Regions from separate parts of the Homo sapiens genome. Here region 1 is linked to region 2. Evidence: fine-mapped expression QTL. A gene starts in region 2. The other region holds a variant in brackets. All regions are shown on one strand. Distances are between the middles of the regions.

What was found.
Region 1: its variant is fine-mapped to the expression of BECN1 in whole blood (INTERVAL, PIP 0.94).

The regions. Positions count from the first base shown.
Region 1 is chr17:42,779,679-42,793,652 of GRCh38, forward strand. WNK4 (WNK lysine deficient protein kinase 4) reads left to right here and starts at 932. Exons shown (of 19, transcript NM_032387.5): 1 at 932-1,638; 2 at 3,080-3,252; 3 at 4,259-4,479; 4 at 4,744-4,901; 5 at 5,419-5,507; 6 at 5,588-5,804; 7 at 7,600-7,864; 8 at 8,100-8,221; 9 at 8,452-8,510; 10 at 8,612-8,729; 11 at 9,003-9,119; 12 at 13,914-13,974. The coding sequence starts at 1,021. RefSeq lists enhancers at 1,005-1,962, 3,252-4,451, 4,357-4,988. The variant G/A (reference allele first, on the strand shown) is at 9,961.
Region 2 is chr17:42,820,373-42,831,872 of GRCh38, forward strand. BECN1 (beclin 1) reads right to left here and starts at 3,910. Exons shown (of 12, transcript NM_001313998.2): 1 at 3,783-3,910; 2 at 3,376-3,507; 3 at 402-469. The coding sequence starts at 3,505. It overlaps MIR6781 (microRNA 6781), which reads right to left and starts at 3,571; the gene lies at 3,508-3,571. RefSeq lists enhancers at 3,137-3,703, 3,704-4,272, 4,139-4,268, 4,273-4,839.

The DNA of each region.
Region 1 (13,974 bases), 39 kb before region 2:
GCCTGGGAGAGGGGAGAGAAAAGAAAGCTTATGGCTTTTGTAGAAGAAAAGGTCCTCCAGGGCCCTGTGGGCTCCAGTGAGCCTGTGGTTTTACATCTGCTGGGTGGGCTGTGTGGAGGAGTGCTGATGGAACACAGCTTGGGGACAGACTGCTTTCTCTCTGAATTGGAGTCACTTAAGGGCTCCCCCTTCCCTCACCATCTCCCTCATGGAAGTCCTGAACTACTCTGAAGCCCCTCCCTCCACCCATCTGGTCTGGGTGGGGTAACTGTGGCCAAGGGGAGCTGAGGGGGGTAAGCCGGATGTGGACTTTGGTTTATTGGAGACTGGCAAACAGAAGGGGAGGAAGGAGAGCCCATATAGCAAAAACAGCCACTCTGGCCAGGGTTAGGCTGCGGCCAAGGTGGCCTGGAGGGGATGGATGACCGGGCTCTCGGTTTGGGGGAGGGACTTATCCTGGGGAGTACACACCCATTCCCTATGCAGACCAGAGGGACAACAACGTCAGACCTTTCCACTGACCTCTCCGTTCGGCCTGGGGCTACTCCGGACAGTTAGGAGGGGGTGGTGCTGCCTTATCTGGGGTGTGCAGGAGGGTGGTAGCCTCCCCCTAAGTAATCCCCCACTAGGGTCCGGGTGTCGTTCTCTCCTGCCCTCCTCCGCGCACAAACAGGTTTGCTCACTCTTAGTGCGGGAGGATGCTCCGCGGTCTCCCACTCAGTTCTGGCCTCAGAGTGAGACTGCGGCCGGGGGCTCGGGAAAGAAGGGGACGCGGCTGGGCGGGGCGGTGACTAAGGTGAGGGGCTGCTCGCGGGATCCGCACCGCGGGAGCAGCTCGGAGGGGCGGCCCTGGGGGGCAAGGGCGGGCCGCGGGGCGGCGACGGGGGCGGGGCCAGGCCGAGCTGGGGGCTGGGGCCGCAGCCGCTCAGCCGGAGCGCAGCGCACCCAGCGAGTCCGTCTGTCAGGCCGCCTCCTCTCCGGCCGTCTGATTTTCTACCCTTCGGCGCCCTGCTCTTCCTCATGTTGGCATCCCCGGCCACGGAGACCACCGTCCTCATGTCCCAGACTGAGGCCGACCTGGCCCTGCGGCCCCCGCCTCCTCTTGGCACCGCGGGGCAGCCCCGCCTCGGGCCCCCTCCTCGCCGAGCGCGCCGCTTCTCCGGGAAGGCTGAGCCCCGGCCGCGCTCTTCTCGTCTCAGCCGCCGTAGCTCAGTCGACTTGGGGCTGCTGAGCTCTTGGTCCCTGCCAGCCTCACCCGCTCCGGACCCCCCCGATCCTCCGGACTCCGCTGGTCCTGGCCCCGCGAGGAGCCCACCGCCTAGCTCCAAAGAACCCCCCGAGGGCACGTGGACCGAGGGAGCCCCTGTGAAGGCTGCGGAAGACTCCGCGCGTCCCGAGCTCCCGGACTCTGCAGTGGGCCCGGGGTCCAGGGAGCCGCTAAGGGTCCCTGAAGCTGTGGCCCTAGAGCGGCGGCGGGAGCAGGAAGAAAAGGAGGACATGGAGACCCAGGCTGTGGCAACGTCCCCCGATGGCCGATACCTCAAGTTTGACATCGAGATTGGACGTGGCTCCTTCAAGACGGTGTATCGAGGGCTAGACACCGACACCACAGTGGAGGTGGCCTGGTGTGAGCTGCAGGTGCGGCTGGGAGCCCCCTCGGTGGCACCTTGGGATGGGACTCTGGAGGTCTTAGGATGACAGACAGAGGGTGGGGGAGACAGCATCAAGGGAAGCATGTATTTTTCCAGTCAAATGTCTATAGACACCTCTGCTGTCTTTGCCCTGAATGATCTGGCTGACTCTGGGCTGCAGAAGGAGAGATTGAGGCAGGTGGTGTCTGGTGACTCCCCCATGGGTATGAACATTCTCACTTTAAAGTCTCCATACTCAACCCTGAGAGGTGGAAAATAGGATGGGAAGTTAGGCAGGGGAGCCAGTTCAGGTCAGTTTCCTGCTGGTGGGTACCCGCAATCCCTTCCTCTCCCCTAAGTCCTGAGATCCTCAGTTATGACCCTGGTCCTCTTGATCCCCTCACTCCTCCCGTCCCCCACCTATTTGCAGACCAGGAGGCTGGGATGCGGGAAGCCAGGAGCTGGGCAAGGGTCATCTCCAACTCCAGAAGATTTAGGGCAGTTGTGGCAGAATAGGGCCCCCTAACCCCTTCTGGAGCAGTCAGACTTCTGGACTTCTCCACAGCTGCGAGGAGGGGGACATAGGGAGCTCCAGCTCTCGAGTGAGTCCAGTTCTGCTCCTCATCCCACTGCCTACCTGTGCTCTCCCTTCCCAGACCTAAAGGCACTAAGCCCATGGGCTTTAGGGGGACCTTCCTCCCATTGCTCCCATGCTACATATGGGTTAGGAGAACCCAGTCAACTTGGGGCCTGAAGCTTCCGATTCAGATCAGGGGACAGAGCCTAGGGGAAGGGTCCCTCTCCAGCCCTGGCACAGGGCTCGCCCCTTGCGCCTGCCAGTGCCGCGCCCCAGGCTCTGGGCCAGGCCAGGAGAGGCAGCCAAATTGGGGGGTGAGGGGAGGGAGAGGAGCCGGGGCGGGACGACTATGGGGGTGGGCAGCCTCCTGGCGCCTAGTCCTGGATCTTTTCTTTCCTTCTCAGTACCTCCCTCCATATCCCTCCCGCCTTCCGTCTGGATCTAGCAGTTCTGTTTCTGGGGCCAACCCCCTTGCCGGCCCCAATTCCCTGCCCGCAGTATCCTGCTGCCCGCCTGCTGCCTGCTCACTGCCAGCCCCCGGGTGCCCCCTCCCGCCCCATGGCCGGCCTGGGCAGCCACAAAGGCACTATTGAGCTCAGGGCTCTGGGACCGGGCTGCATAAAGGTGCTTGTGTCCAGCAGGGGGTCTAGGGGGCTGCCCCAGGCCCAGGTTGGGTGTGTCCTTGGATCAGCTTACGTGCGGGACTGTTGGAGAGTTCAGGGTCTGCAGCCCACTGGGCAAGTAATCCCATTAACCCCACCCCATCTGTGGGCTCCAACCCTCACCTCTTCCCCCAACCCCACTCCAGGTGTCCCTCTTCCTTTCTGTGGGTGTCCTGGGCCTGACATGACACCCGTCCCCCATCCCACAGACTCGGAAACTGTCTAGAGCTGAGCGGCAGCGCTTCTCAGAGGAGGTGGAGATGCTCAAGGGGCTGCAGCACCCCAACATCGTCCGCTTCTATGATTCGTGGAAGTCGGTGCTGAGGGGCCAGGTTTGCATCGTGCTGGTCACCGAACTCATGACCTCGGGCACGCTCAAGACGTGAGCTCTGCGCATGAGTGGGTGGGGAGAGGGAGGCTGGGATGTGTGCCCACTGCTTCCTGAACTCCCAGGCTCCTCAAACTCTCTAATATCCAGGTGTAAAACCAGGTTCACCATCTCCCTCTCACCCAACCTTTGTCCCTGCCTCGGTGAGTGGCAATGTCCACCCAGCACTCCAGTAAAATACTTGGGTGTCTCCCCAGACTCCTCTTTCTCCACTCTGCCCCCTCATCAGTCTGTCCCCAAGTCTTTCCTTAACCTCTCCCCACCTGGCTTTCACTGCTTCATCCATGCCACCACCTCAATGCCATCTCGCTGATCTGGAGCCCTGCAGCAGCCTCCTAAAGGGCCTTCCCAAACTCTGCCACCCTCTAAGCGATCCTATCTTCCTGCAGCCTGGAGAATCTTTCCCAGTTGAAAATCTGAACTGTCACTCCCCTCCTTAAAACCCCTTCAAAGTTTCTCATGGCCTTGGAATAAAGCCCACACAGGCTCACCTGTTCACAAAGTCCTTAGGATACAGCCTCACTTTCAGCCTAAGCTCCAGACACACCAAATTCCTGGCACCTCCTCCCACCCTGCCTTGTCACTGGCTTTTTCTGTGCCTTTGAGCACGGTGTCCTGTCTGCCTGGGAAGTCTCCATCCCTTCCCCCTTTCACCTTTGAGCTCCTACTCATCATTCAAGATGCAACACAAAAGTATTTCCTCTCCGAAGCTCTCCCTCATGCTTGGGGCAGTTAGTCATCCCTTCCTGCGCTCCCACAGCACCTTGGCCGAGGCCCTATCTATCAATTTACTTCCCAACCCGTTTGGTAACGTCATGTCTATCCACCATGCCCCCTGACTCAGTTTCTCCCTGGGGCCGGGCAGACATAGGCTAGGAGAATGCTGGCAGAAGATGCGGAGGCGGCAGCAGGGTGCGGCAGGGGGGAACTTCCCAGTGGGGGGCTCCTTCCCGGAGGACGTGTCCCCCCACCAGGACTCTGGCTATGCGCCCTCCCCCAGGTACCTGAGGCGGTTCCGGGAGATGAAGCCGCGGGTCCTTCAGCGCTGGAGCCGCCAAATCCTGCGGGGACTTCATTTCCTACACTCCCGGGTTCCTCCCATCCTGCACCGGGATCTCAAGTGCGACAATGTCTTTATCACGGGACCTACTGGCTCTGTCAAAATCGGGGACCTGGGCCTGGCCACGCTCAAGCGCGCCTCCTTTGCCAAGAGTGTCATCGGTGCGTCTCTCCAGGAGGGTCCATGCCATTCCTTCCTCCCCCACCTCAGAAGAGAACCTGGGGACTCCCTCCCCTCAGCAAGGGCCTTCAAGGTCCACAAAACTACCAGACGACAGGGAAGCTGAGGAGACCTATGGCACCCACCTCAACCCCACTGTGGGCCGGGGTCACTTGCACTCGCAGGGTTGCCTGGGGCTGCCTAGCCCAGTGGGAAGGACGAGGCCAGAGTGCCCAGCAATCTGATCCCTGCTGTGGACCCTACAGGGACCCCGGAATTCATGGCCCCCGAGATGTACGAGGAAAAGTACGATGAGGCCGTGGACGTGTACGCGTTCGGCATGTGCATGCTGGAGATGGCCACCTCTGAGTACCCGTACTCCGAGTGCCAGAATGCCGCGCAAATCTACCGCAAGGTCACTTCGGTGAGAGGGATGGGGCTGGCGGGAAAGGCAATTCCAGGGCCACTTCCCCTTTTCCTGCGCCGGCCAGCCCGCAGTCAATGCCCTTTGCCTGCACGAAAACAGGCTAGACACAGAGTCGCCTTGGTGAACACAGAAGGATATTGAGTGCACACGCGCCCCCACCAGTACACGCTATTTAGAATAATAATATGTGTGGTGCTCCCAAGAGTTCACAAATGATTTCGCATCCCATCTCTCATCCAATCCTTCCAGCTGCCCTGTGAGGTGAGCGGGGCAAATGTTCCACCCTGCGATTTACAGATGAACAAACAGCGGGAGACTTGTTCAAGATCACACTGTAAATACTTGGGGGGGGGGCGGGGATTAGGATTTGAAATCACATCTTCCAGTAGCAGTCAGGCTTTTGCAACTGCACGCGCAGCTGCCTAAGGAGGGAGTGGAGTAAGGGGTGGGGGGTGGTGTCAAGCCGAGAGCTGGGGATCAGAGGACGGGAGGTGTCATGCAACCCCTTCCCCAGGGCAGAAAGCCGAACAGCTTCCACAAGGTGAAGATACCCGAGGTGAAGGAGATCATTGAAGGCTGCATCCGCACGGATAAGAACGAGAGGTGGGGGTGAAAGGGCAGAGCGTGGGTAGAATAGGGCCGCGGGCCGCGGCGGGCTCGGCTCACCCACGCGTCACCCTCAGGTTCACCATCCAGGACCTCCTGGCCCACGCCTTCTTCCGCGAGGAGCGCGGTGTGCACGTGGAACTAGCGGAGGAGGACGACGGCGAGAAGCCGGGCCTCAAGCTCTGGCTGCGCATGGAGGACGCGCGGCGCGGGGGGCGCCCACGGGACAACCAGGCCATCGAGTTCCTGTTCCAGCTGGGCCGGGACGCGGCCGAGGAGGTGGCACAGGAGATGGTGAGCGGAGGACAGACTGTGCTGCCACTGGACGTGTAAAGGACATTGACTCGAGGGGACAGTGCAACAGGGATGGGGCGCAGGAGGGGTGGCAGCGATGGGGGCGGGGCACCTCACCCCTCTCAAAATCTCCTGCAGCGTCTCCCTACCTCTCCAGCCCTAACTTACCCGCACGCACACCCAGTTTTCCTTTACAGAGGGAGCCCTGGGTCCTCCAGCGTCCCTGCTTTACCTCCAGCTGATCTGTTCTTCCTGGGATGCCCTTCTTGCCAATTCATCTTTTCCTTCTTTCCTCCCTCCCCATTTTTCTTTTTCTTTTTCTTCCAATATGATCAGAACCATCGATTTCGGGAAGCCGTCCCCTTTGGAGTCAAACTTAAATGCTTCTTTCCACTTCAGCATGTTCTCGGTTACAGCACTCCCCACTATCGGTCCTGTCTTAAACCTGAATAAGTTCCTATCTTTCTTCTCCACTAGACTATAAACTCCCTGAGGGCAGAGACTGTGTTTTATCGATTCTTCTATCCCTGGCAGTGCTTGGCACATAGTAAGAGCTCATTAATAGCCTACATCTGTACATGGCTTAAAGCACTTTCACATGCATTTGATCTTTGCTACCCATCCTGCATAGGGGGCAGTTTTATCTCAACTTGTTGATGAGGAAATGGAAATTCAGAGAGGTTGAATACCTTGTCCAGGGCCCCAAGTAAGTAAGTGGAAGAGCTGGATTGAAACTGAGGTGGTTCAGATTTTAAATCAGGTTACCCTTCCCCACCTCCTTTACTCATTCAGCAAAGCTTGCGGCTAAAAGGAATGAGGAGGTGATGAATGGAAGCTGGTAGAAGGGGAGAGGCATAAGATGCAAGGGCAGAAGCTTGGGGGCTGGCTTAGGAAGTCCTGAAGGGAGTATGGGATTCTTTTTTTGGGAGTAATGGAGTCTCACTCTGTCACCCAGGCTGGAGTGCAGTGGCGCTATCTCAGCTCATTGCAACCTCCGCCTCCTGGGTTCAAGCAATTCTCCTGCCTCCGCCTCCTGTGTAGCTGGGATTACAGGCAAAAGCCACAACGCCCAGCTAATTTTTGTATTTTTAGTAGGAACGGGGTTTCACCATGTTGGCCAGGCTGGTCTCGAACTCCTGACCTCAAGTGACCCACTAGTCTTGGCCTCCCAAATTGCTGGGATTACAGGTGTGAGCCACCGTGCCTGGCCGAGTATGGGATTCTTAATAGAGACATGACAGTTGCAAGGGTGGAGACCACCTACGGTAGGTCAAGAATCTGAGAATGTGTTAGAAATTTAGAGCAGGTCTCCATAGCACGGCCCAACCTGACCTGAGATCAAATCTTGATCCATTGCTGACAAGGGATTCTTGGCCTTGGCACTGTTGACATGTTTGTTTTAGGGACTGTCCTGTGCATTGTAGGATGTTGAGAAGAACCCCTGGCTTCCGCTCACTAGATTCAGTAGCACCTACCCTCCAGTTGTGGCAACTAAAAATGTCTCTAGATAGTGCCAAACATCTCTTCTTCCCATTGGAAACCACTGACTTACTGTATAACTATGAACCAGCTACTTCATTAATCTCTAAAAATCGAATGGTAAGATTTATCCCACAAGGTTGTTTGGAGGATCTAGTGATGATAATGTAAGGAGCTGCCAGTTAACAGACATAGTGGGTAATCAGTAAGTGTTGGTTTTCTTCCTCCCATATCCTGGAGTTCCCAAGAAGGCGTCCTGATGGATCTTTGATAGGGGGTCCCAAGCTGTGTTCCTCATCCCCCACCCCAATTCCAGGTGGCTCTGGGCTTGGTCTGTGAAGCCGATTACCAGCCAGTGGCCCGTGCAGTACGTGAACGGGTTGCTGCCATCCAGCGAAAGCGTGAGAAGCTGCGTAAAGCAAGGGAATTGGAGGCACTCCCACCAGAGCCAGGACCTCCACCAGCAACTGTGCCCATGGCCCCCGGTCCCCCCAGTGTCTTCCCCCCTGAGCCTGAGGAGCCAGAGGCAGACCAGCACCAGCCCTTCCTTTTCCGCCACGCCAGCTACTCATCTACCACTTGTAAGTCACCCCTGATCTTGAGACGTAGGTCCCAGAACACCTTGGCCTCTGCCCCCTACCCAGAAGTTCACCCCCACAGCAGTCACTTACCCTGCCTTCCACCTCTAGCCATGAAGCTCCCTCCAGGAAGGAACTCTCCCACAGCTCCAGGCCCCTCCTTGCTTAGGCAGGCCCCATCCTCTGCCACTATTCCCTTTTATTTCCCCTTTTTTTGATCCTCTCCCTCCCCAACCAGCGGATTGCGAGACTGATGGCTACCTCAGCTCCTCCGGCTTCCTGGATGCCTCAGACCCTGCCCTTCAGCCCCCTGGGGGGGTGCCATCCAGCCTGGCTGAGTCCCATCTCTGCCTGCCCTCGGTGAGAGGGGGTCGCATGGGGGGCTCCCAGCCATTCCAAGCCTATGACCTATCTCCCTCCTTGTGAAACCCAATCTCATGATCCAGTCCCATGTCCCTGGAAATCCACCATTCTTGCCCTCCTCTTCCCTAATTCCATCTCCCTAATATCCTCCCAGCATCCTTGACACCATCTCCCTAGATCTCAACAGTTATCTTCCCCTGACCTCATGAACCCTTATCCTGTTTCAGGCTTTTGCCCTATCCATTCCACGTTCTGGCCCTGGAAGTGACTTTTCCCCCGGGGACAGGTATGTTCTGGTACAAGTTGGGGTGCCAGGGTGAGACACCTGGGGCACTGGGGTCCCAGTGTCTGCTCTGACAGTCATTCTCTCTCCTTTCTCTTTAACAGCTATGCCTCAGATGCAGCTTCAGGCCTTAGCGATGTGGGAGAAGGGATGGGACAAATGAGGAGACCCCCAGGGAGGAATCTCCGGCGCAGACCCCGATCCCGGCTGCGGGTCACTAGTGTAAGGATGGAGTACAGGAGATAGAGAGTAACCTACAGGGCCAGGAGGGAAGTGTCAGGGGGAGGCGGGGGAGGTCACCCAGAAAACGGGAGAAGCAGTGTATGACTAGTACTCAAGAGGCGGCCAGTCTGGTTTCTAATACCAGACTTTAGAGGTGGGGTCTACTTATCTCCAAGTCCATTGTGGCTGCTGTCACTTGGCTGGGGTAGGGTGGAGACACAGCATGATGAAGAGGGCTTGACCTTCTCCCCTCTGCTGACTTTGAATCTGAAGGTCTCAGACCAGAATGACAGAGTGGTTGAGTGCCAGCTACAGACCCATAACAGCAAGATGGTGACCTTCCGATTTGATCTGGATGGGGACAGCCCGGAAGAGATTGCAGCTGCCATGGTGAGGGGGAGAGAGATGAGGACAGAGTGTTTGGATCTGGAACAAGAGTCTCCTTCCTGATGTCCGCTGGGGCTGAAACCCACTGATCCGACAGCAAGCATTTTTAAATCTCTGGTTGACACTTAGCACAGTAACGCTGAAGATGTCTCAGCCCTTGTTTTGGGGGAGATTTCTGTTTATCCAGTGAGGTTTGGCTTCTCAGCTGGAGCAATTTGAGACTCACATTGACCGGGTACACACAAGTGCTACGTATAAGTGCCTGGTAGATGTGCAATACTGTGGCTGTAGGTGAAGGATGGACTGGGCAGCAGGGGCAATGAGCTTACCCAGGATCTTGGCAAATGGGCAAGAAAGGCTGTGAAGGGTGGAAAGGCCATGAAGGGTGTCCCTGTGCAGGGACAGCATAAGCAAAGGCATTCCAAGTAGAGAGTGTCTTGGAATATGGGGCTGGGAGGGCTTCATGAGGAAACCACTATCACTGGAAGTAAAGATTCCTATAGGAGAGTTGTGGGGAGTGAAGCCGGGTAGGTAGAGTGGGCCCAGATTGTAGAATAGACAATGTTAAGAGTTAGGCAGAGGCCAGGCGTGGTGGCTCACACCTGTAATCCCAGCACTTTGGGAGGCCGAGGCCGAGGCAGGCAGATCACCCGAGGTCAGGAGTTCAAGACCAGCTTGGCCAACATGGTGAAACCCCGTCTCTACTAAAAAATACAAAAATTAGCTGGGTGTGGTGGCGCATGCCTGTAGTCCCAGCTACTTGGGAGGCTGAGGCAGGAGAATTGCTTGAACCCGGGAGGCGGAGGTTGCAGTGAGCCGAGATCACACCATTGCACTCCAGCCT[G/A]GGCGACAAGAGTGAGATTCTGTCTAAAAATAAATAAATAAATAAATAAATAAATAAATAAATAAATAAATAGAGAGGCAGAGCAGGCTAGGTCCAGTGGCTCACACCTGTAATCCCAGCACTTTGGGTGGATGAAGTAGGAGGATTGCTTGAGCCCAGGGGTTCAAGACCACCCTGGTAATATAATGAGACCCTATCTCTACAAAAAATTTAAAAAATTAGCCGTGTGTGGCGGCACATGCCTGTCATCCCAACTACTTGGGAGGCTGAGGTGGGAGGATCACTTGAGCCTGGGAGGTCAAGGCTGCAGTGAGCTTTGATCACGCCACTGCACTCCAGCCTGGAAGACAGAGTGAACTTTGTCTCAAAAAAAAACAAAAACAAAAAAACAAAAAGGCACAGTGTAACGTGACAGTAGGCTTTATGAAAATCATCTGCCATGGGATGTGGAAGGGGGAAGGGAAAATACCTGGGAGGTAGACCCAGGAAGCCATCTGTGGACAAAGGAGAGAGTGGCTTATGGGAGGGAAGAGGAGAAAGGGTGAATCTGAGGGTTGTTTCGGGAAAATAAGTTACTCTGTAATCCAGTAACCTATTGACGTAGTAGAGAACATAGTACATAGTAGATGCTCAATAAATATTTGCTGAGTTGATATGATTGGGAGTTAGGGAGAAGGGATGTCAAGGACAACTTGTAGGCCACCAAAGGAGAGTAGGAGAGTAGGCCACCAAAGGAGAGAGGAAATTAGAAATGAAAGAAGGTTTTTTTTAAGGAGGTCATGATGAGCTTGAGTGAAGAAGGGACAGCCAAGACAAGACCCTCCATAGCCATGGATATGGGTCAGGCAGGGCTGGAGAGATGTGGATGGAGGAGTAGTCAGTACAGAGTTGAGAGTGAAGGGAGATGAGCCGGCAAAGCCAGAGACACAGAGGGTTGCAGAGTGTGTCTCAGCGCATACCACCAGTTCTGGAGTGGGAAGCGGGAGGGTAGGTCATCGAAGGACACAGAGACAAAGCCAGAGACGTAGGAGGATGTTAGTCAAAACTGAGTGAGGAGAGAGTTTCAAGGAGGTGGCATAGGATGAATCCTCAGGCAAGACCACACTGGCTTTTGTTAGGAGATCTTTGTGGGAGACCAGTTTCAGTGGAGTGGGGGTGGTGGATGCCAGCCCATGGGGTGAAGGAGGGAAAGGAATGGGAGAAACACCAGGCATCAGGAGCCCTCTCTAAAGCATCTCCTCCATCATGTCATTCACCTTGTGTCCAGGACAAAGACACAATATCACCTGGCACACAAGGCTCATCACCTTCCGTCAAACCACTTGACTCTTTCAGAGTCTTCCATCCAGCCACACTGGTTTCAAAATGGGCCTCTGAAAAGGCTGGGTGCCTTCCTGCCTCTGCCTCCACCTCCTTAAGGGTCTCTCACTCGTAGAGCCTTCTGTATTGGGCTTTCAAGTCCCCTCTGATCCTGCACAGCCAAAGTGACCCCACCCCATGCACCCAGAGTCCTTTGCCCTCTTTTCTCTCCTTACCCAGTCCACCCTCCACTCCTCTGCAGCAGAATTCTCCTGAGACTTGGATCTGATCTCTTGATATTCACCCGAAATTATTTAGTGGCTACTTGTGGTTGTAGAGTAAGGTCCAAATTCCAAAGCCTTTAAAATTCACAGCACATTCAGCTACACTTGAGTCCTCACTATTTTAAGAATAGGCTGTGCCGGGCATGGTGGCTCACGCCTGTAATCCCAGCACTTTGGGAGGCCGAGGCAGGCAGATGACCTGAGGTCGGGAGTTCAAGACCAGCCTGACCAACATGGAGAAACCCCGTCTCTACTAAAAAATACAAAATTAGCTGGGCGTGGTGGCGCATGCCTGTAATCCCAGCTACTTGGGAGGCTGAGGCAGGAGAATCACTTGAACCCAGGAGGTGGAGGTTGCGGTGAGCCACGGTCATACCATTGCACTCCAGCCTGGGCAACAAGAGCGAAACTCTGTCTCAAAAAAAAAAAAAGAAGAAAGAAAGAAAGATTGAATAGGCCGGGCGCAGTGGCTCACACTTGTAATCCCAGCACTTTTGGGAGGCTGAGGCAGGTAGATCACTTGAGGTCAGGAGTTCGAGACCAGCCTGGCCAACATGAAGCCCTGTCTCTACTAAAAATATAAAAATTAGCTGGGCATGGTGCCAGGCAGTCCCAGCTACTCAAGAGGCTGATGCAGGAGAATCTCTTGAACCCAGAAGGTGAGGTTGCAGTGAGCCAAGATTGTGCCACTGCACTCCAGCCTGGGTGATAGAGCAAGGCTCAGTCTCAAAAAAAAAAAAAAATAATAATGTACCATGCCTTTCATGCTTCAAAGCTACTACACTGTTCTCTCTGCCTAGACTGCTCTTCTCTTCCTGATGAACAGCCTGGAATAGAGGAAGGGGTCGCTTTCATGTAATACCTAAGTTCAAACTTCAGCTCTGTTATTTACTAATCCAATGAACTTAGGCAAGTTTCTTAACTCTGTAAACTTCAGTTGCATGTAAGTAAAATGCAGATGATAGTATTTGTTTTGCAAAGATGTTCTGATACGACACAGTGTAATGTAGAAGTGTCCACACATGGTAGGTCCTCAATAGAGATTGCTTTTCTCATCTGTCAATGTTCAGCTCCAAAGACTTACTCTGTGAAACTGCTCCAGCTTCCCCCTATCCCCAGGGTGGTATTCTGTCTTTGGAATAGCATTTTAAAAAATTGTGATTAAAAAACCATAAATATAAAATTTACCACCGTAACCATTTTTAAGTGTACAGTTCAGCAATATTAAGTATATTCACATTGCTGTGAAACAGATCTCCAGGGGTTTTCTTACCTTGCAAATCTGAAACTCTGTACCCATTAAACAACTCTGCCTCTCCACACCCCCATCCCCCCAACCCTGGAACAACATTTCTATCTATATCTCACTTGTAAGTGCCTTACGTATTACGGGCTGCCTTGCAGTAAGTTTAATTACGTATTTATGTGTCTCCTCCACTAAGTTTTGGGCTTCGTTAAGCCTAGGACCTTGTTTCATGCTTCCTTGTATTCCCACAGTACCCAGCACAATGCCAGCACATAGTAGGTGCTCAATAAGTATTCATGGATTTGAATGTGACATTTGCCATTTATTGCCTTATTCTGACTTAACCGTGTGGGATGGGTGTATGTGGGCCTGTGTGTTATACTTTATAAACACTATGGGGCAGAAATTGTGTCCAAAACATGGGAGGCAGCAGTGAAGATAACTCAGGCTCTGGCTTTAGGTAGATGTGGGTTTAAATCCTGTGACCTTAGGCAGACGGAACTTAACCTCTTTGAGCATTGGTTATCTTAATTCTACCATAGCAATATTAATGTGGGCCCCAGAAAGTTACTGGTGGTGTTAAATGTGATAATATACGCAAAGCAGCTGGTATATATACGCATCCTATGAATGTTAGCACCTTTCCTTCTAGGCTGTATTTCTCCTTACACCACACAGTGCCTGGAACACAATAGGTATTTACTTGTTTTAGGTTGGTGGTTGGCAGGAGCAGTAGTGTGAAGGGTGGATTTTTTATTTTTATTTTTTTGAGACGGAGTCTCGCTCAGTCGTCCAGGCTGGAGTGCGGTGGTGTGATCTTGGCTCCACCGTTTCCCAGGTTCAAGTGATTCTCCCGTCTTAGCCTCCCAAGTAGCTGGGATTACAGGTGCCCGCCATCATGCCCAGCTAATTTTTGTATTTTAGTAGAGATAGGGTATCACCATGTTGGCCAGGCTGGTCTTAAACTCCTGACTTCAGGTGATCCGCCCGCCTCGGCCTCCCAAAGTGCTAGGATTACAGGCGTGAGCCACCGCGCCCAGCCTGATGTTTTAAGATCAGAAGCAGGGGGAGAGGGATGAGTGAGATAACAAGCTCTCCCTCCCCATCCTGTTGACCCTCGCAAGGTATATAACGAGTTCATTCTGCCTTCGGAGCGAGATGGATTTCTCAGACGGATTCGGGAGA
Region 2 (11,500 bases):
TCCTAACCAGGATGCTTTTGAGAATGGAAAGGAGTGGATATTAACAACTAGCTAGAACAACAGATGCAAATCAATGCTCTAGAACGACCTGGACACACAGGTCATCCCATCTCCAACCTACAATAATTTATAATTCTGCTTCAAATAAAGAGCCCTTTCCAACATTTTAAAATGACTAATTCAGTAACCCTGTGACCTCAGGTGCAGATCTGTACCTCCAATGGTGCATAGCAGCCTGATCATGTAGAATGTCTCATTACCCAGAGATCCCAAAAGTCCGGGAGCTCTAGAAGCGCCAAGTAGCCTGCAGAAACCAAGCCTGCATTCCTGTTTTCATATCATATCTCTCATTTGGAATGTTTACTACATGAGGAGGATAGGGGAGAGGGCACTTCTATTACCTCTCCTGAGTTAGTCTCTTCCTCCTGGGTCTCTCCTGGTTTCGCCTGGGCTGTGGTAAGTAATGGAGCTAAGGGCAAGGAAAATATTGGGTCAGAAACAGTCTTATTAAAGCAGGAGGGCATCTGAAAGTATGGGAAAAGAATGTGAAATATTCTCATCACCACCCTCACCTCCAATTTTTCTTAAAGTACCATTTACACCAAAAGAATCTGTGGTCTTCCTCACCCCCATTAAATCAGATTAAAGAAATGTTCAATTTTTTAAGGCATAATGGTATCATTATTATTATTATTATTATTACTTTAAGATGGAGTCTTGCTCTGTCGCCAGGCTGGGGTGCAGTGGCACGATCTCGGCTCACTGCAATCTCTGCCTCCCGGGTTCGAGTGATTCCCCTGCTTCAGTCTCCCAAGTAGCTGGGACTACAGGCGTGCACCACCATGCCCAGCTAATTTTTTTGTATTTTAGTAGAGACAGGGTTTCACCATGTTGGCCAGGTCTTGATCTCCTGACCTCGTGATCCACCCGTCTCAGCTACCCAAAGTGCTGGGATTACAGGCTGAGTCACCGCGCCCGGCCGGTATCATTTATCTTTAAGAATCCTTATCTGTCAAAAATACAGAAATATTTACAGTATTTATGTTTGGGATTTGCTTCAAAACAATTCAGAGTGGGAAGGAATGGATGGGGCTGTAGACAAAACTTGATTAAATATGTGTTGATAATTGTTGCAACTAGGTGATGGGTACACAGGAGTTCATGATATACTCTGAAATTTTCCATCACAAAAGCAAACATCCTGTTTCCCCCAGAATAGCAAGGAGGGAACATAAGGAAACTTTCTAGGAAGATGAAACATTGCTAAATTGCAACGATCCAGATTACATCAGTGTATCCATTTGTCAAAAATGTACAGCTAAGATTCATACATTTCAAGTCATGACAATTTACCTTTCTAAAAAGGTGTGAAAAACATAATAATTGAGCAGAGGATGGGAGGTGAATGGAGGTGTAGACAACATAAGAATGTGAGAATATGGCTGATTATTGAAGCTGGATGATGAATACAAGGCAGGCTATGCTATTCTCTTGACTATATATGTCTCAAATTTTCCATAATAAAAAGTCAAAAATTGTTATTAAAAGAGTTTAAGAGGCGCGGTGGCTCACGCCTGTAGTCCCAGCACTTTGGGAGGCTGAGGCGGGCAGATCACAAGGTCAAGAGATCGAGACCATCCTGGCCAACATAGTGAAACCGTCTCTACTAAAAATACAAAAATTAGCTGGGCGTGGCGGTGTGTGCCTGCAGTCCCAGCTACTCAGGAGGCTGACGCAGGACAATCACTTGAACCCGGGAGGCAGAGGTTGCAGTGAGCCGAGATCGCGCCACTGCACTCCAGCCTGGCAACAGAGTGAGACTCCGTCTCAAACAAACAAACAAAAAAAAGAGCTAATTTCCCCTCAAGAAAGAGAAACCAGGTAATAATAGCAGCTAATACTTATTGAATACTATTTGCCCAGCAAATTCCTAAGTGTTTCTGTGGTTTGTCATATTTGAACTTTATAAATTCTTTATGAGGCAGTTTAACGTTTTACAGAAAAAATCAGAAACCAAGGCTTGGAGAAATGAAGTAACTTGCAAAAAGTTGTTCAGCTAGTAAATGACAGCCAGGATTTAAACCCAAGCAGGCTGACTCCAGGCCCATAAGCTTATTTAAGCTGCCTATTCAGTCTTCTCTTTTACTGTCTGACTTAATCTGAATTCTTCTGACTTTGCGGGATTTTGGGGTTTTTTATTTTTTTTAATTATAGAGACAGGGTCTTACTGTGTTGCCCAGGCTGGTCTCAAACTCCTGCTCAAGTGATCCACCTGCCTCAGCCTCCCATAGTGCTGGGATCACAGGTGTGAACCACCACTCCTGGCCTTTTTAATTAATTTATTTTTTGAGACAGGGTCTTGCACTGTTGCCCAAGCTGCAGTGCAGTGGCATGATCATAGCTTCCTGCAGCTTTGACCTCCTGGGCTCAAGTGATCCTCCTGCCTCAGCCTCCACCACCCACCACACCCAGCAATTTTTTTTTTTTTTTAGAGACAAGATCTCTGCTAGGTTGCTCAGGTTGGTCTTGAACTCCTGGGCTCAAGCGATCCTCCCACCTCAGCCTCCCAAAGCACTGAGATTACAGGCGTGAGCCATCACATCCAGCAAATTCTTCAGACTTTAAGACTCTACTCCATTTACCAGCTGTTGGACCTTAGGTAAGTCACTTAACCTCTCTGTGCCTCGGTTCTTCATCTGAAAAATGATGTAATGACGGTATACCCCGTACGGGTTGTTACAGGGACTAAATGAAGTAATACGTGTAATGCACTTGGTATTACTATATAGTAAGTCCTCAAAAAATACCATTTATTATTATATATACATATTCCTTTTCTCTGAAACAGCAGGAGCAGAAAATAAGGATCTTTCTTTTGCTACTGAAAGCTCTCTTTTTTTGAGACGGAGCCTCGCTCTGTTGCCCAGGCTGGAGTGCAGTGGTGCGATCTCAGCTCACTGCAAACTCCACCTCACCGGTTCAAGCGATTCTCCTGCCTCAACCTCCCGAGTAGCTGGGACTACAGGCACGTGCCATCACGCCCGGCTAATTTTTGTATTTTTAGTAGAGAGGGGTTTCGCCATGTTGGCCAGGCTGGTCTCGAACTCCTGACCTCAGGTGATCTGCCCGCCTCGGTCTCCCAAAATGCTGGGATTACAGGCGTGAGCCACCGCGCCCGGTCGGAAAGCTCTCAGAAGTCCACAATGTCAGAATGCTTTATGTTTCCAAGGAGAAAACAGGGAGCCAGATGAAGTGACTTTCCTAGGTTCACACGATGAGTTTGTGGCAGACTACACAGCCACCATAAGAATTATATCACCAAAGCTGCCCACCTTCCACATTCTTGACCACCCTCTTTCCAAGGGTCTCGCTGACCTGTGAGTTCCTGGATGGTGACACGGTCCAGGATCTTGAAACTCGTGTCCAGTTTCAGGGGCTGGCTGCAGCGCTGGCACACGAAGCTCACCTGCATGGTGCTGTTGTTGGACGTCTTAGACCCTTCCATCCCTGAGGCCGTGGAAAAGAGGCAACATTAGGGAGAAGCGACGCCCTTGACCTCCGGCCCGGGGTTACCACATGCCTTGGTGACGATGGTAAAGGGAGGGAAGTCCCAACCTGCGCCGTTCCCTCTAGGAATGGTATGATACGGGGAGGACCTGCTTCCGGGACAGCCTGAGCAAAGGCAGTTTAGAGCCCAGGGTCAGGGAAGGGACTCCAATAAGAGCCGTGAGGGTTCCCAGACTCCCTTCTAAGGTCCCACCTCAGCCCCCGATGCTCTTCACCTCGGGAGCCCGGAGCCCGTCACCCAAGTCCGGTCTACCGCGGAGGCACTGTGGCCTCGGGTCGGCCCCGGAGCGAGGCCTCCAGAACTACCATCGCTCTGTCTTCAGCGACTTCCCGGTAGCCGCCGGAAAACTTCCGCCCGAGACCGGACGTGACGCTACGACGGCAGCAGGAGCTCCTGGTCCACAGGCTCACAGGCCCGGCAGCGGCCCCCAGAGGCCGGGCTGGGAAAAGCAGCGGGCTTCAGCGGATGAACAAGGTTACCACGGGAAGTGTAGGAGCCAAGGCCGCAGAGAATGGGGAGGCTCCGCTATTCTCTAAATTCAGGGGGCGGCGGGCGCGGTGGCTCACGCCTGTAATCTCAGCACTTGGGGAGGCCGAGGAGGGCGGATCACGTGAGGTCAGGAGTTCGAGACCAGCCTGGCCAACACAGTGAAACCCCGTCTCTACTAAAAATACAAAAACTAGCCGGGCGTGGTGGGGCACGCCTATAATCCCAGCTTAATCCCAGCTACTCGGGAGGCTGAGGCAGGAGAATCGCTTGAACCTGGGAGGTGGAGGTTGCAGTGAGCCGAGATCGGGCCACTGCACTCCAGCCTGGGCGACAGGGCAAGGCTCCATCTCAGAACAACAACAGCAACAACAAAAGGCCGGGCATGGTGGCTCACGCTTGTAATTCCAGCACTTTGGGAGGCCGAGGCGGGCGGATCACAAGGTCAGGAGTTCGAGACCAGCCTGGCCAAAATGGTTAAATCCCGTCTCTACTAAAAAATACAATTAGCTGGGCATGGTGGCGTGCGCCTGTAATCCCAGCTACTCAGGAGGCTGGGGTAGGAAAATCGCTTGACCCCCGGAGGCGGAGGTTGCAGTGAGTCGAGATCATGCCACTGCACTCCAGCCTGGGCGACAGAAGGAAACTCCATCTCAAACCCCCCCCCCCCACACACACACACAAAACCAACAAAAAAAGAAAGTGATATTCAAATAAAAGCTTGAAGAAGGTGAGGAAGGAATTCTTACCTGCATCTTAAGGAAGAGCATTCTAGGCCAAGGGAACAGCAAGAGCACAGAGGGTACCTGTTTGGGGATTAGCAGAGGCTGGTGTGGCTAGAAGATGGGCAACGAAAAGAGATACAGAAAATGGGGTGAGGGAGGTAAGAGTGTTGAGCTACCACCTAGGCTCTTATAGGGATTGTAAAGCTCTGGCTTTCACTTTGAATGAGATGAGATGACTGGGTCTTGAGCAGAGGGACTTACTTCATTTTTAAAAACAACTTTATGGGGTATAATTTACATACCATAAGACTCACACTTTTTAAATGTACAGTTCAATAATTTTTAGTAAATTTACACAGTTGCCCAACTATCACCATAATCCAGTTTTAGAACATTTCCCATCTCCCCTTGCAATCCCCCACTGTGGCCTCCCAAAGTGCTGAGATTACAGGTGTGAGCCAATGTGCCTGGCCAAAAGTTTTTCATTTCAATAAAGTCCAATGTTTATGCTTTTGGTGTAAAAGAAACCACTGCTTAACCCAAAATTGTATGTAGTATTGTCTATTTTATTTTTATTTTGAGACAGTGTCTTACTCTGTTACCCAGGCTGGAGTGAAGCGGAACAAACAAACATGGCTCACTGCAGATTTGACTTCCTGGCTCAAGCAATCCTCTTGCTTCAACCTCCAGTGTAGCAGGGACCACAGGTGATCACTACCATGCCCAGCTAATTTTTAAAATTTTTTGTAGAGATGTGGTCTCACACTGCACTCCAGCCTCGGTGACAGAGCGAGACGCCATCTCAAAAAAAAAAAGAGATGGGGTCTCACTTTGTTGCCCAGGCTTCTGCTTTTTAAATTTAACATTTTTCTATGTTGCTACACAGTTATTGTAGTTATCATGGCTACATTACACTACACTAAATGTACTGCCTTAGTGTATTTTTTTACCGCTGGAAATTCTACTATTTCCCCTGTGGGTGATTACAATAATCCTGCAATGAAGAGCTGGCTACTTATGATAGAGACTCATAACTGGGACTACAGAATTAAGAGTGTGTCAGCTATTTAATGTCTCTTCCTTAACACTGGGAATCATTTTCCAAAGTGCTTGCACATAACTATATTCTGCTTCCAGTAATGTATGAGGAAGCCTGTTTTCATATTGCCTTGGCCAGTATTGGGTATCATATATTTGGGGAACAAAAGCAAAAAATGGCACTTCCTTGTTATTTTAATTAGCATCATTGATTGCTGGTAAGGCTGAACTTTTTGCTATGTATTTGCTTATTGTAGTTACTTTTTTTTTTTTTTTTGAGATGGAGTCTTGCTCTGTTGCCCAGGCTGGAGTGCAGTGGTGCCATCTCGGCTCACTGCAACCTCTGCCTCCTGGGTTCACGCCATTCTCCTGTCTCAGCCTCCCGAGTAGCTGGGACTACAGGCGCCCACCACTACACCCGGCTAATTTTTTATATTTTTAGTGGAGACGGTTTCACCATGTTAGCCAGGATGGTCTCAATCTCCTGACCTCCTGATCTGCCCGCCTTGGCCTCCCAAAGTGCTGGGATTACAGGTGTGAGCCACCATGCCCGGCCTTTTTTTAAAAAAAAAAAAAAAAAGAGACACGGTCTCACTCTGTCACCCAGGCTGGAGTGCAGTGGTGCAATATCAGCTCACTGGAATCTCCGCCTCCCGGGCTCAAGCAGTAGTTACTTTTTTCTGAATTATGTTTGCATTCTTTGATTATTTAGGTATTGGATTATTAGTATTTTTCTCAGTATTTTTAGTAATTTTTCATGAATGCTTTAATTATTTTCCAGATGTTCAGGAAGTTTTAAATTTTCAAGTCAAATCTGCTTATTTTTCTTGATGACTTATACTGCTTAGAAAGTTATTCCCACCTCCAGAAGTGTCTTTCTTTTCTTTTAAATGTATGTGGTTTCTTATAGTTGGTATTGGATGTGATATGTGGAACTAGATTGATTTTTCTCCCGGTTTTGTGACTAGGGATAGTGTTTACAATCCTTCTTCCTCTTGGCTCTTTCAGCATGAAAGCCCCTTTAGGGGAGGTGACTGGAATCATCCCCAAAGAATTCTCACCTAGTCCTGGTGTGGCTGCTTCATAGTCCTGCGTTTCTTCCTGCTTGGCTGTCCCTAACATCTCAGAAACGCATAGAGAAGTAACGGGCTTCTAGAGAGGTAGGGGGTATAGTGTTACAACTGAGGATTTGGAAGTTGAGACCACCTGGTTCTTTACCATCCACTAACCATGTGACCTTATGCAATTTATTCAACTGTTCTGTGCTTTGTTTTCTTATTTACAAAATGAGATTAATAGTATACAGTAGTAAATATCATAAAGGGTAGTGTGATAAATGAGCTGATACATTTGGAATGGAGGGGAATGACTGTTACATAGTGAATGCTCTGTGTATCCTCACACTTGGGAAGTATATGTAATCAGTGTATGTAGTGCTTGAGGGATTGTGAATAATACACAACATATCCTCAGTCATCGATTCAACAGATGTTTATTGAGCATCTACTATGTGCCAGTCCCTATTCTAGGTCTGAGAGGATATACTGGTGAACTGCTCTAATAGTTTATATTCCAGAGGAGAGAATTTGACAGTAAACATGTAACCAAGTTAATAAGATAATTTCAGATAATGGCAGATATTATGGGTTGAATGATGTCCCCCAAAAGATGTTGAAGTCCTAACATCTGGGACTAACACATGGGAATGTGACCTTTTTTGGAAATAGGATCGTTGCAGATGAGGTCATTGATGTTAGCCCTAGACCAATATGACTGCGTCCTTATAAATAGGGGCAATCTGGACACAGAGACAGACATGTACCGTGTCTGAGGGAAGATGATGTAAAGAGACACAGGGTGATCTGTAAGCCAAGGAAGACCTGAGGCTACCAAAAGCCAGGAAAGAGGTCTGGAACAGATACTTCTCTGGCTCCCTTAGAAGGAACATGGTCCTGCTGACACCTTAATTTTGGATTTCTGGCATCCAGAACTCTGAGACAATATATTTCTTTGGTTCTAAGCCATCCACTTTGTGGTACTTTGCTACAGCAGCCCTAGAAAGCTAATACAGTAGGTAAGAAGGTGATGTGATAGAGAGTAAGTGGGGGCAGGGTGGGAGGAGCTGCTTCAACTGGGGGATTCAGGAAGGCCTATGTTATCTGGAAACCACTGAGGGTGGTAAGTAGGGAAGAGACTTGACTGGCTGACTTAAAAAGAAACTATTTACGGGGGGATAGAATACATAGGGGAAAAGACACAAATCATACATGTATTTTCAATGAATTTTTACAAAATGAACACGTCAATGTAACCAGTACCCAACTCCCTCTCCCATGCCACCCTCTAATTGATGCCCACCCTAAGGGCAAACAATATTGTCAATTCTAACACCCTAGATTGAGTTTTGACTGTTTTTTGAATTTCATGTAAATGGAATCATACATGACATACTCTTGTTTCCTTTCGCTCATCATGAGATTCACCCACCTTGTGTAGTTTTAGTTCATACATTCTCAATACTTTGTAGTATTCCATTGTGTGACTATATTAAAATATAGATATCTCTCTTGCTGTTAAGAGGCATCTGGGTAGTTTCCAGTTTGGTCTATTGTGAATAGTGTTGCTATGAACATTCTTGTTCATGTCTTTTGGTGAATATATTTATGCATTTCTCTTGGGTGGGTCCCTAGAGTTGAGGTTTCTGGGATCTCTCTCTCTCTCTTTCTCTTTCTCTCTCTCTCTTTAGGTATATTCAGCTTGAGTAGATGCTACCATCTCTGTGGCTGACATATTAGCAGATTATTTTGAGCTGGCCTGGTGTGCACCTGTAATCCCAGCTCCTCAGGAGGCTGAGGCGGGAGGATCACTTGAGCCAGGAGTTCGAGACCAACTTGGACAACATAGCAAGACCCTGTCTCAGTCAGTCAATCAATCAATGATAAATTTTGGTGCTGAGTGAAGAACAGAATGTGACAGTTGGTGGGGGGTGGCAAGAGTGGAAATGGAGAGACCAGATAGGAGCCTATTGTAATAGTCCTAGCAAAGGATGACAGTGGCTTTGGCCAGGGTAACAAGAGATGGAGGAAAGCACACTCATACAGGATGCATTATACAGGGAAAGCTGACAGGACCTGCTGATGGGTTGAATGTGGAGAGACGAGGAAAAGAGAGGAATCAAGGTTGACTGTTAGGTTTTTGGTTTGAACAACTAGGTGGACAGTTATGTCAATTACTGAGATGGAGAAGAATAGGAAAATAACAGGTGTGTGGGAGAATCAAGAATTCTGGTTTGGCCATGTTAAGTTTGATATGCTCATTAGGTTTCCAAGTAGAAACATCAAATAGATGGTTAGAACTCAGTGAAGATGTCAGATGGGAGATACGAATCTGGGGCCCTCAAATCAGCATACAGATTTTTTTTTTTTTTTTTTTTTTTGAGATGGAGTTTCGCTCTTGTTGCCCAGGCTGGAGTGCAATGGCGCGATCTCGGCTCACCGCAACCTCCACCTCCCCAGTTCAAGTGATTCTCCTGCCTCAGCCTCCCGAGTAGCTGGGATTACAGGCATGTACCACCACGCCCAGCTAATTTTGTATTTTTAGTAGAGACGGGGTTTCTCCATGTTCAGGCTAGTCTCGAACTCCCAACCTCAGGTGATCTGCCTGCCTTGGCCTCTCAAAGTGCTGGGATTACAGGCATTAGCCCCCGTGCGTGTCTGGCCGAATACAGATGATACTTAAAGCTATGAACATGCATAGATCCTCTTTTTTTTTTTTTTTTTTTTGAGACGGAGTCTCGCTCTGTCGCCCAGGCTGGAGTGCAGTGGCGCGATCTCAGCTCACTGCAAGCTCTGCCTCCCAGGTTCACGCCATTCTCCTGCCTCAGCCTCCTGAGTAGCTGGGACTACAGGCGCCCGCCACCACGCCCGGCTAATTTTTTGTATTTTTGGTAGAGACGGGGTTTCACCGTGTTAGCCAGGATGGTCTCTATCTCCTGACCTCGTGATCCACCCGCCTCGGCCTCCCAAAGTGCTGGGATTACAGGCGTGAGCCACCGCGCCTGGCCGAACATGCATAGATCCTCTTAGGGAGAAAGTGTAAGCAGAGAATAAAGGACCTAAGTCTCCTGAAGCATGCCACCATTAAGAAGTGGAGCAGAGGAGGAAGAGCCAGCAAAGGAAATGGGGAATCACTGTTGAGGCTGGAGAAAGATCAGAACAGGTTGCTGTGTGTATTTTAAGAAGGGGAGTGGCTAATATATTGAGTACTACTGAGAGATTCAAATAAGATGAGAGGTGACCACTGGTGTCAACATGGTAGTCATTGGTAACCTAACAAAAATTATATCAGTGAGAAAGTGGGGTTGAGAAGTCTGATTAGAGTGGATTGGAGTAAATGGGGCATGAGGAAGTAGAGTAAGAGACAATAAATAATTCAAGAAGTCTTGCCAGGAAGGAGAGCACAGAAAGGGAGTAACAGCTACAGAGGAATCTGGATTCGGGGGGGAGTTTTCTCAAGATAGGGGATATTGGTTATGTCTGGAAATGACCCAGCAGAGGATGTGATGTAGGAAAAAGAGGGGCTAATCATGGGCACAGACATGGGATTGAGAAAGTCAAAGGGGATGGAATCCAAAGCACAAAAGGAAGAGATAGGAACAGGTTTGTTTCCTTCAATGAAAGAGGAAAGGCAGAAAGTATTTTGCAGATTGGCAGATTTGGTGGTGAGATGATGAGGTAGTTCTCATCTGCTTCTGTTTTCTCAATAAAGAATGAGCCCAGGCCATAAGTTGGAGGTGGGAGAGAAGGAATACTGGAGGTTCAGGGAGATGAGAAAGTATGATAGTCATTGGGAGGGTGGGAGAGCAAACTTGTCAGGAGCATGTAGTAGGAGCTCAGGCAGTGTTGTGCACTCATTTGAGATTTTGGGACATGAATTTAAAATTAGACCAGTCATCAGTGATCACATGTGACTTGTAAGCACCCAGAAATGAATAGTTATTGTTAAGTGTAGTGGTACTCTCCAGTTGTTCACTGAATAAACAAATGAATGGAGTATTATATTAAACACTTGGATGGGGAGGAGGAAGGGAAATAAAGAGAATGTGTATCTGTCTTATAACCTACTTGAAGGAGACAAAACATAATTATTTGAGAACAAAGCATATTTTAACAGGCACAAACATATTAGCTTTTCCAGTTGATGTTATAAATTCTGACTGGAATAAGAATAGTGGCATACTTAAAATAGAATGGAGTAAATGTGGGAAATAATTCCTGAAGTTTCAAATCGGATCTCAAAAGTTCCCAGGGAAATGTGTTAACAGAAAACATGTAAAAGGGGGAAAACTGATAGAGCATGATGTTATATGTGGCCTTCTATAAGCTGAAAAGGACTTTGAGCTTGAAAGCAGGAATGGAAATAATTACTGTAATTTAAGGAGTAACCTCTTCATGCTAAGCATTAACAGATCACTTACTTACCTGACAGTGGCTACTATTTATTTTGTGTCTAAGCACTGTGCTAATTGTTTTACATATATTATTTCTAATATTCACAACACTACAAAATTACATACTATTATTTATTACTAATTATTAAAATTCCATCTTACAGATGAGGGAATCGAGACTCAGCATTTCAATAATTTGCCCAAGATTCCAGTTAGTAAGGAGCTGAGGTGGGA